Homo sapiens: one gene and its partner. The protein of the gene in region 1 purifies or fractionates together with the protein of each later gene. This does not show direct contact. Each region holds a gene or a part of one and is shown on either strand. Other genes may lie near its edges.

Region 1 (4,799 bases):
GCAGCCTCTACCTCCCATGCTCAACTGATTCTCCTGCCTCAGCCTCCTGAGTAGCTGGGGCTACAGGCATGTGCCACCACTTCCAGATATATATATATTTTTTCGAGACAGGGTCTCACGATGTTGCCCAAGCTGGTCTCGAACTCCTGGCCTCAAGTGATTCTCCTGCCTTGGCCTCTCAAAGTATTGAGATTACAGGCATGAGCCACCACACCTGGCCTTCTTGCCACTTTTTAAACATGATTTCATTTAATCCTCATTGCAACCTTGATGAGAAAGGTATTGCTATATTCACTTTATTGGTGGGGAAACCAAAGTGTGGTTTAACTTGCCGAGTGAAGTGGCTGGGAGTGTGGAATAAAGGTCTGTTGGTCCCAGCAATGACACTGTGGGAGGGATTGCAGCCACAGGGGCAATAATTCCTCAGAATCTACTGTCTGCCAACTTTTAAAGGAATAAACATAGATGTCAGGGAAGACTGACTGGCACAATTTAGGAGCTGATTATAGACAAGACTGCTGAGATAGATGAAGTTAAAAATAGGCAAGAGATGAGTGATGCCTGTTTTGGGAAATGTCCTATACAGAAGATAGATTCTCTCAGTTTATGTGTAATTTTTTTATCTGCTATAAAAATCTATCAATATCTCAATTTCTCAGTGATTTTCCCCCCTCCCCAAATGTCAGGATTGTGCAGCTAGAAACCTAAATGGCTTTTCCCACATTATCTTTAGCTGAATGCAGATGCCCAGGCTTTGTATCAGAGCATAATACTCAACAATCATATTAATTGCTTCTTATCTCTGGATTCTTTTCTAATAAAGTGTTTATCACATTCAAATCCATGGTAAGATTAATGAACTTGCAGCTGTTTTATATTCTGATCATTTGGCACATTGACCTGAAAGATAAGGTATGTTTATTATTACCAAAAAGTTTTCTCAAAATTTCTCCCTGAAGGGAAGTAGGAAAGACAACCAACCAGTGTGCCAGATTAGAACAAAAAAATGTTTTAAGTCCTATTTTCAGTTTTTTTTTTTGCACAGAATAGAGAAATAAAAAGCAAAGCAAAGGAAGACAAAAAGATGAATAAAGCCTACAACCCCTTGCTATAATTTCAGTAGCTGAAGCTGGTAATTAATTTAGCAACTATTTATTGAGTGACTACAATGTGCCAGGCACTTTGCTAGTTCAGGGGAGATGGTGGTAAACAAGACGGATGGCTAACCACCTGTAAAGAGCATGCATGTTGGTTTACACGTCTATGCACCATGTAGTTAACATACATTATTTAACTTAATTCCTACATCAATTTTATAAGAATCGTTATCCCGTTATGTAGATGAAACTAAGGTTCAGGAAGTTTAAATCCTTGGTCTAGGCTTGCATCTCAACTAAGCTGCCAGAACTGAGGTCTGTCTGATTTGAACATGCACCCCTGCAATATATTGACAAAGTCAGATCTCAGCTCGCTGTAACCTCCAACTCCTGGGTTCAAGTGATTCTCCTGTCTCAGCCTCCCAAGTAGCTGGGATTACAGGCATGTGCCACCATGCCTGGCTAATTTTTGTATTTTTAGTAGAGGTGAGGTTTTGCCATGTTGGCCAGGCTGGTCTTGAACTTCTGACCTCAGGTGATCCACCCGCCTCAGCCTCCCAAAGTGCTGAGATTATAGGCGTGAGCAACCATGCCCGGCCAGCAGCATTATCTTTTGATAGAAGACCTCAAAGAGAGGGAGTTACTTTGCAATGGCAGCAGAAGGTAGCAGTAGTAGTAGTGGTAGTTAGCATAGCTTTGATATTTGCCAAGGGCTTCACATACCTATTTCCCCTGAGTCTCTATCACAGCACCTCTGTGAAGTGAATAGTAATATTATCCTCATATTGGAGATGAAGAAACAAAGGCCCCCAAATTACTTGTTTACATAGTAGAAATAAGATTCAAGTCCAGATTTACAGACTCCAAATCAAGTAGGTGTGTGAAAGTGTTTCATAAATTACAGAAGGTTCTCCCAATGTTTGTGCAAATGTTTCATTAAAAAGCACCCTTTTCATTGTGTGAAAATGTGGCCATGTGGCCAATAAAGTAGGCTTACCCTTGGCTGCCTTTTAAGAGTAAGTCAGGGGTAGGAGTGGGAATATTATAAAGCAAGGTTTGGTCTAGTCATACTGTATGTGATTGTATGATTATTTACTCTGAATAAATGTGATTCAGGCTTTAGGCTTTTCAATATTGTGCCAAACACCGTATTTTGGAATTCAGAACCTACAAGGTAGAGATGCCATAATTCTCTTTATAGAGAGAGCCCTTGATAGATATCCATAATCAATTCCAGCATTGTCTACCAGTGCTGCTTTGTGCAGACACAGCCTCTTGAACCCAGTCCTCTTGGTCTGGAAACTAGTCATATACTAGAGGAAACCAAACAGATTGGTAAAGGCTGGGGCAACTGAGTATTTTCCAAAGCATATTTGAAATTCTGTTCTTGACTCTGATTTTGAGGTTTTGGCTTCACTGTAGGTTTTAATGTCAACCACCTGGACATTGCCCCACGCTATGCCAGCATTCTCATGGGGATCTCAAACGGAGTGGGAACCCTCTCTGGAATGGTCTGTCCCCTCATTGTCGGTGCAATGACCAGGCACAAGGTAAAGGTCTCCTTTGTGGCTATGGGTTACAATATCAGAGGACTGGAGCTCTACACAAACTTGAGATTTCAAGGCTCTACTGCAGTCTGTAAATGTGTATGTCCTTGACCTTGACTGAGTCAGCTGAACTTCTTTTTTTTTTCTTCCTTCTTCTGATTTTCAAATCATTGCTTATCAATGGCACCAAGGCTAGTTGTTGTTTTGTTCTATGTTTTCTCAATTGAGGAATAATAGTCTGGGGAGAGGGGATGGGCCATAGAAACTGTTTAGAGACCCAAAGAAGAAACTGAGGCAGTCAACTTGGGATAAATGAGTTACTGAAGATTGTTTTCTCATTCTCAGTGATTAAACCTTATAGCCTATTTCCATCCATTGCTTAGCATGTTTCAGCATAAAAAGATGAGTGCTATTCTACTTCCTTGTTAAGAATAAAATAAACAGGACATTGATAACCTACCCAGTTGTTACTGAGCCTTTGTGAATTTAGACAAGGGTGGATGGTAGAGGCAGATCCATCCAGAGTTCAACCACAGCCCACATGATTTCTTTATCTTTGTCACTGAAACGTCTCAAGATGCTGCTTTCTGCAAATAAGAATTCTTTGATACCATGGGATTTTTTTCCCCCATCTATTTTCTTAGTTGGATTGCCTATTACAAATATAACTTCAGAAGTTTTTGCAGCTTCCTGCAGAAGAAAGTGTGAGATAAATTTTCTTACTTTTTGACAGAAAAGGTAGGATTTTATAGGCAGAGAATTCATGTTTTCCATCTCTGTTCATGAAATGATAGGATTGATAACCTGACTATTAAATCCAAGATATCTTCCCCCAACCTTAGACACAAATTCCCATTATTTTTTGACATACTTTTTTTTACACTGAAAATATTATAAAGTTCTTGTCAGTCAAGGGTGAGAACTTTAATGGCTCAAATATTGTTATGTATCCAACAACAAGCAAGAAGGAGACTTCTGATATTTAAAACGGTGGGTTCCTAAAACAATTTTAATTTAGCTGACTATGTGAAGGGAAACCCCATTTGAGTATTCAAAAAGCTATGCAATGGTGCTGCAGGTATTAATATTTGTATATGTTGTTTATTTTAAAATGTATTTTCTTGTAATCCCAGCACTTTGGGAGGCCAAGGCGGGTGGATCATGAGGTCAGGAGATCGAGACCATCCTGGCTAACACAGTGAAACCCCGCCTCTACTAAAAATACAAAAAATTAGCCAGGCGTGGTGGCGGGCACCTGTAGTCCCAGCTACTCAGAGGCTGAGGCAGGAGAATGGTGTGAACCCAGGAGGCGGAGCTTGCAGTGAGCCGAGATCGCGCCACTGCACTCTAGCCTGGGTGACAGAGCGAGACTCCATCTCAAAAAAAAAAAAAAGAATTTTCTAAATTAAAAAAATACGTATTTATTGTTTTGTCTAACTTTCATATTCATTGTTGTCTTAACTTTCATTTTTTAAGTTTTTCTTTTAAATTTGGTTTGAATCCCGGATGGTGCTTCTGACACACGTCCTCCCGCCCAAGGAGCCTCTAGAGCATCACCTTCCAAATGGGCAGGTGCTTTTTCACAGTGGAGGCCTCCAGGACATACTGGTAATCTCTAGTTTTAGTTAAAACATTAATTGGCACTTTATTTCCTTATTTAGACCCGTGAAGAATGGCAGAATGTGTTCCTCATAGCTGCCCTGGTGCATTACAGTGGTGTGATCTTCTATGGGGTCTTTGCTTCTGGGGAGAAACAGGAGTGGGCTGACCCAGAGAATCTCTCTGAGGAGAAATGTGGAATCATTGACCAGGACGAATTAGCTGAGGAGATAGAACTCAACCATGAGAGTTTTGCGAGTCCCAAAAAGAAGATGTCTTATGGAGCCACCTCCCAGAATTGTGAAGTCCAGAAGAAGGAATGGAAAGGACAGAGAGGAGCGACCCTTGATGAGGAAGAGCTGACATCCTACCAGAATGAAGAGAGAAACTTCTCAACTATATCCTAATGTCTGAGAGGCACTTCTGTCTTCTCCTTACTTTAGAAACAGAAAGTATCCATACCTATTGCCTTTCTTGTAGCCCAGCTTGCCAGAGGTCCAAATATTGGGAGGGGAGAAGATCTAACCAGCAACAGGGAAAAGAGAAATATTATCTT
Region 2 (5,058 bases), on another chromosome or scaffold:
AAAAACTTGATTCCTTTCTATTACAAACTGAGTATATATTAATGAAATACAGGGCAAGAAAAATTCAAAAGCAACCCCTAAATCTGAAGAAACACTTAATGGGAGGAGGGGACAAGCATACTTACCATAGCAGTTACTTTTTTTGACCTCTTCTATTCAACAGTATAAATCAAGTATTGAAAAGAGACCTGTCTCTTCTATTTCTATCACATGTATGCTCATTTCATCTGAGGGGAATAATTTGTATTTCTGACAAAACAGAAGTTTATCTGTTGTTAAAAAAATTCAAATTTTCTGTGAAAGATGTATTACTATGACCCTTCCCTTTCCAAAGCTTAAAAATGCCTTAAAATACTCACCTGAAAGCTTTCTTTCCAGAAACATGTTCACTTAAGCAATGCTTTGAAATCATTGCTATTGATCATTTACATATTTTTAGTTTATACACATTATTGTAACTTTATAGACCTAATTTCTATTTCATTTTATCTTTGAAGCATAACCTGGCTTATGCAAGAACAAACTATACTATTTCTGTAAGGTCTTCAGCTTATCAACTTATTAAGCTTATCAGCTTATTAAGGCACTTAATAATCATGCTCTACTATGGTAAACAGGCCCTGAAATGGGCAAAAGAAATTTTTAGCAGCCATATTTTAACTTGTTGCTGTTTTTCCTATCATTACAGTAAATGCATAATGCGGGACTAAATTTCCTAAGCTTTTAACACATACAACTTGAAGACAGTTTTACAGAAAGCATCCTGAAAACCCAAACACTGTTCTTTTTATACTATTAAAAGACAAAAGTTTAATTTGCTACAATTTCCCCTTCACTCAATACAAAATAGCAAAAACATACATTTCTAGTTTAGTTCTGAAATATCCCTATTATTCCTACCTCTTCTGTGGCGCTTTACAGTTTATAGAACACTACCAAATTATCTTAAAAAAGCAAAGTTTCACTTTTAAAATTAAGCCCATTAGTGCTAAGATTTGGGGGGAAAATGGCTTATCTGCTCTAAGATTTGATAAACATTCAAAATACATTCTGTAGCTTGACTAGAAGTTTGAGGAGAGAAACCCCATAGCCTTAGATGACTAAGGAATACAATAAAAGTGAGAACACCATGTATAAGCGTTTAAATGTATTACAGAATACATGAAATATTAGAGAACATCTCCTCCATTCATAACCTCACCAACCCTTCCATTAAGTTGTGGCAACTAGAGCTGGCAAAAATCAAAGCGTCGAAATAATTTTTTTTAAGAGACAGGGTCTTCCTTTGTCACCCAGACTGAAACGCAGCAACACAATCATAGCTCACTGTAATCTCAGTCTCCTGGGTTCAAGCAATCCTCCTGCCTCAGCCTCCCGAGCACACGTCACCACAGCCAGCTAGTTATTTCATTTTTTGATGAGACGGGGTTGCTCAAGCTAGGTTGGAGCTCCTGGCCTCGAGTGATCCTCCCGCCTCAGCCTTCCAAGTGCTGGGATTACACGTGTGATTATTGTGCACCCAGCTAAAATAATTCTGGATTGCTTTAGGGGTTTTGTTTTCTATCTGATAATCAAAATATCAAACTCTTATTAATCCATTGCAAAGAGATATTACCACTGGGCATGTGCTAAATATGTGACTAGGCAGTGTTCTTCTAAGGGCAACTTGAGTGCTTAAACTGTAAAATTCCACTGACTTTAAAGCTCACTCTTTTTCACAAGTAGTCCATGAAAGTACAAGTAAAACTCCCATATGTCGACTATTGAATAAAGAGCATCTGAAAAGAATTACTAGCAAGCTATATGGTTTTATTGACTGAACCACACCTAAATGTACCTTTGCACAGGTAACTATCTTAAATTAGCAAAGATGATCATAACCATGTTGGTTTAAACTATTTGTTACAAAGAAATCTAACTCAGTTACTCTCAAAGGAGTTCCTATGATTAAGAATCACTCCACATAACAAGAAGTGTTATAAATTGGCATATGCTGGGTATGTGAACACTGCTGAAACAGAAAAAATATGTTGAAAACCACTGATTAAAATTTTGAACTAAAGTAATGGTTGGGCTAGGATGCCATCCCATCTGAGGCACTATGACTGGGAGCACTACTAGCATTTAGTGGATGAGACTAGATATTCAACATACATTACAGTCCCAAAGATAAGTACCATCCACACCATACGACTTTCAAGTGTCCAAGTGAGCCAGGTATGGTGGCTCACACCTGTAATCCCAGCATTCTGAGAGGCTGAGGTGGGAGGATTGCTTGAGCTCAGGAGTTTGAGACTAGCCTGGGCAACATAGTGAGACCTCGTCTCTACTAAAAATAATAATAATAAAAAAAAGTTAGCTGGGCATGGCGTGCCTATGGCTCCAGATACTAAGGAGGCTAAGGTGGGAGGATCGCTTGAGCCCAGGAGATCAGGGCTACAGTGAGCTATGATCGTGTCACTGCATTCCAGCCTGGGCAACAGAGTGAGGTCTGAAAAAAGAAAAAAAAAAAGGAAAAAGAAAAAAGTCCAGAAGTCCAAATGCTTAGTTGGTTAGTCATGTAGGCAAAAACCTATTTATAATGAATGAATCCCAGACTCTAATTGTTTTATATATAACTCACCAAGTACATTTTGCAGGGTTTAATATACAGAGATTTTTCCAGGAATGTGGCTGCAATGTAAATTAAGAGATTATACTTTATTAACCCTGTTCTTTTCTGACAATGCTAATAATCTCAATTGTGGTATTTGAGTCACCAATGTGACAAATCTGTAGACATCAACATTTCTGTCAAAAATCAAAATGGGCCAGGCATGGTGGCTCACACCTGTAATCCCAGCACTTTGGGAGGCCTGGGTGGGTGGATCACTTGAGGTCAGGAGTTCGAGACCAGCCTGGGCAACATGGTGAAACTCTGTCTCCTAAAAATACAGAAAAAAAAAAAAATCAGCCCAGCATGGTGGCAAGCGCCTGTAGTCCCAGCTACTCAGGAGGCTGAGGCAGAGGTTGCAGTGAGCCAAGATCGTGCCACTGCACTCCAGCCTGGGTGACAGAGCAAGATTGTCTCTCACACACACAAAAAAAATCTCAAAATGATTCCATGTAAAGATACAAGCCTCTGACACGTCCTTTGTGTATTTTGGTATAATCATACTTAACTATTTACATATTGAAATGCATATAGTCAATTCTGCTATAATGCTTTCTTGATCATGTGAATTTTAACAGGATTGGTGTATTACTGAACAATTTGAGCATAATGAAAATGTCACATTTGCTTATAGTGATTCTGTCCCAACACTAAGTGAACGCAGAAAATTGTACCCAACTGAGTCATGCAGGAATTCACAAAATACACACACACACTTCAGGTGGTCAATGAACCACATACATTCACATATATGTTACTAATTTTCCACTCCATCTTATAACTTTTTTTCCTTCTACTACTTCACAGTAATTCAGAAACTATAACTCCATCCAATGCTCACTGCATTGTTTGCTCAAACTTTTTCAAGGCAAAATGTCATTATTATAGTATTTAACATGTACAAAACAGTTCTTTTTAAGCTCCTATCTTTTTAAAAAATGTATAATGATGACTGCTCTTTCTCTTGGGAGTTTTTTTCATGGGCCTCATAATTTTTGGTTAAAAGCTGGACATGTTGTGTAGGAGTAGAGATTGAGGTAATTTTTATGACTGGAAATGAGCACGCCTGTTCTTTGTGAGGCCTTTGGTGAAGGGTTTGTGTTAATCTGGTTAGGAGTTGGACTTAGTTTATGATTTGTTTTTGCCATAGTTATCCTCAGTGTATTACAGCCTTCATGAATCTGCAGAACAGTTTGTCTCTCTGGTGGGCGATGGTTTACTAGAGCAATGCCTGTTTGATTCTTTGTGTTGTGCCTCTTTGCATAATCTTGTTCCTTTCCTAGTAGTATTTTGTGGGTTACTTGTTACTGAAAGCTTCTTAGCTTGGTGGCAGGGGGTTGGGGGTGGGGGATACAGTCTGATGTTCTGATTAAGTCTAAGTCAAACACTGTGTTCCTGAATCTCAGGAGGGCAGCACTCTCGGTTCTGTTGACCACTCCCGACTGCAGTTTTGGGCTCAGGGCCCCTCCTCCAGGCATAAGATTCTCTCCCACTTCTCATCTACCCCCTGAATGTTCACCAATGGGGCCAACAGAGATACCCTTCTCCCCAGAGATTAAAGCTTTTTTCCATAGAAGAGGCAGAGGGGAAGAATCACAGCAGTTTCTTGACCCTCTTAAAAGTTCTGTTGCTGTTCCTCTCCCTCTCAATCTGCACAGCAGACTCACCCAGGGTTCTTTCCAGTCTTTTCTAGTAGACCCAGGGAGGTTTGTGGATAAGAGTTTGCAAGATTGTGCATTCAGCTTTCATCATGCTTTTTGTCCAGTTGTGTCTGAAGACGGTAAACAGAAATTGACATCTACTCTCTGTAAGCACTGTCTCTCAAATTTTCAGCCAGTGGTTTTGCTCTGTGGACTCAGCTCTTTAATAGATTTCAAAAAAGTCATGAATTTGTAGTGTAGGTCTTTTTTTGTTGCAGAAGTGAGAGCAAAGCTTCTTTTTTTGTCTCAGGGCCAAAGCCAGAGGTAGTTACATTATTTATAAACTAAAGATAGCAAAGAAGGTGTTACTAATTATTTTTTATAAAAAGGGAGCCTTTATTGGGTCTAATAAAGTTGAGAAACACTGACTCAAGGAACTCTTTCAAAATATTAATAACTCCCCTTTAACTACTGCCATGTTTTACAGTGAACATTTAGGCCAAAACCTATTTGTAGCAACCAAATTTGTGCTGCAGTTTATCTGCACAGCCTTGTTTCAATTACTAATTTAAAGTACCTCAATCAGAAGCAGGGGAAAGGTATGTGTAGCAGAAACCTCATATTCACCTGTGTAAACAGAACTGGTTGAGGAATGAAGCCAAATTAGTTAAAACACATCTTTTCAATTTCAACCCTAATTTGGGACCTATTGAGAACCGGACTCCACTATCAACCTTTTAACAAATTTAATAAAGCCAGTATTGT

What was found. Proteins that work in one complex are often made in the same cells at the same time.
Region 2: the proteins of SLC17A8 (region 1) and DNAJC13 purify together in Homo sapiens (affinity purification with mass spectrometry; one large-scale study listed by BioGRID and IntAct). This does not show direct contact.

The regions. Positions count from the first base shown.
Region 1 is NC_000012.12:100,415,510-100,420,308, forward strand, and holds part of SLC17A8 (vesicular glutamate transporter 3), read left to right. Parts: intron 1-2,519; coding exon 2,520-2,647; intron 2,648-4,305; coding exon 4,306-4,650; 3' UTR 4,651-4,799. UniProt on the Homo sapiens protein: Multifunctional transporter that transports L-glutamate as well as multiple ions such as chloride, sodium and phosphate.
Region 2 is NC_000003.12:132,419,490-132,424,547, reverse strand, and holds part of DNAJC13 (dnaJ homolog subfamily C member 13), read right to left. Parts: exon of another isoform or gene 2,831-5,058; intron 1-2,830.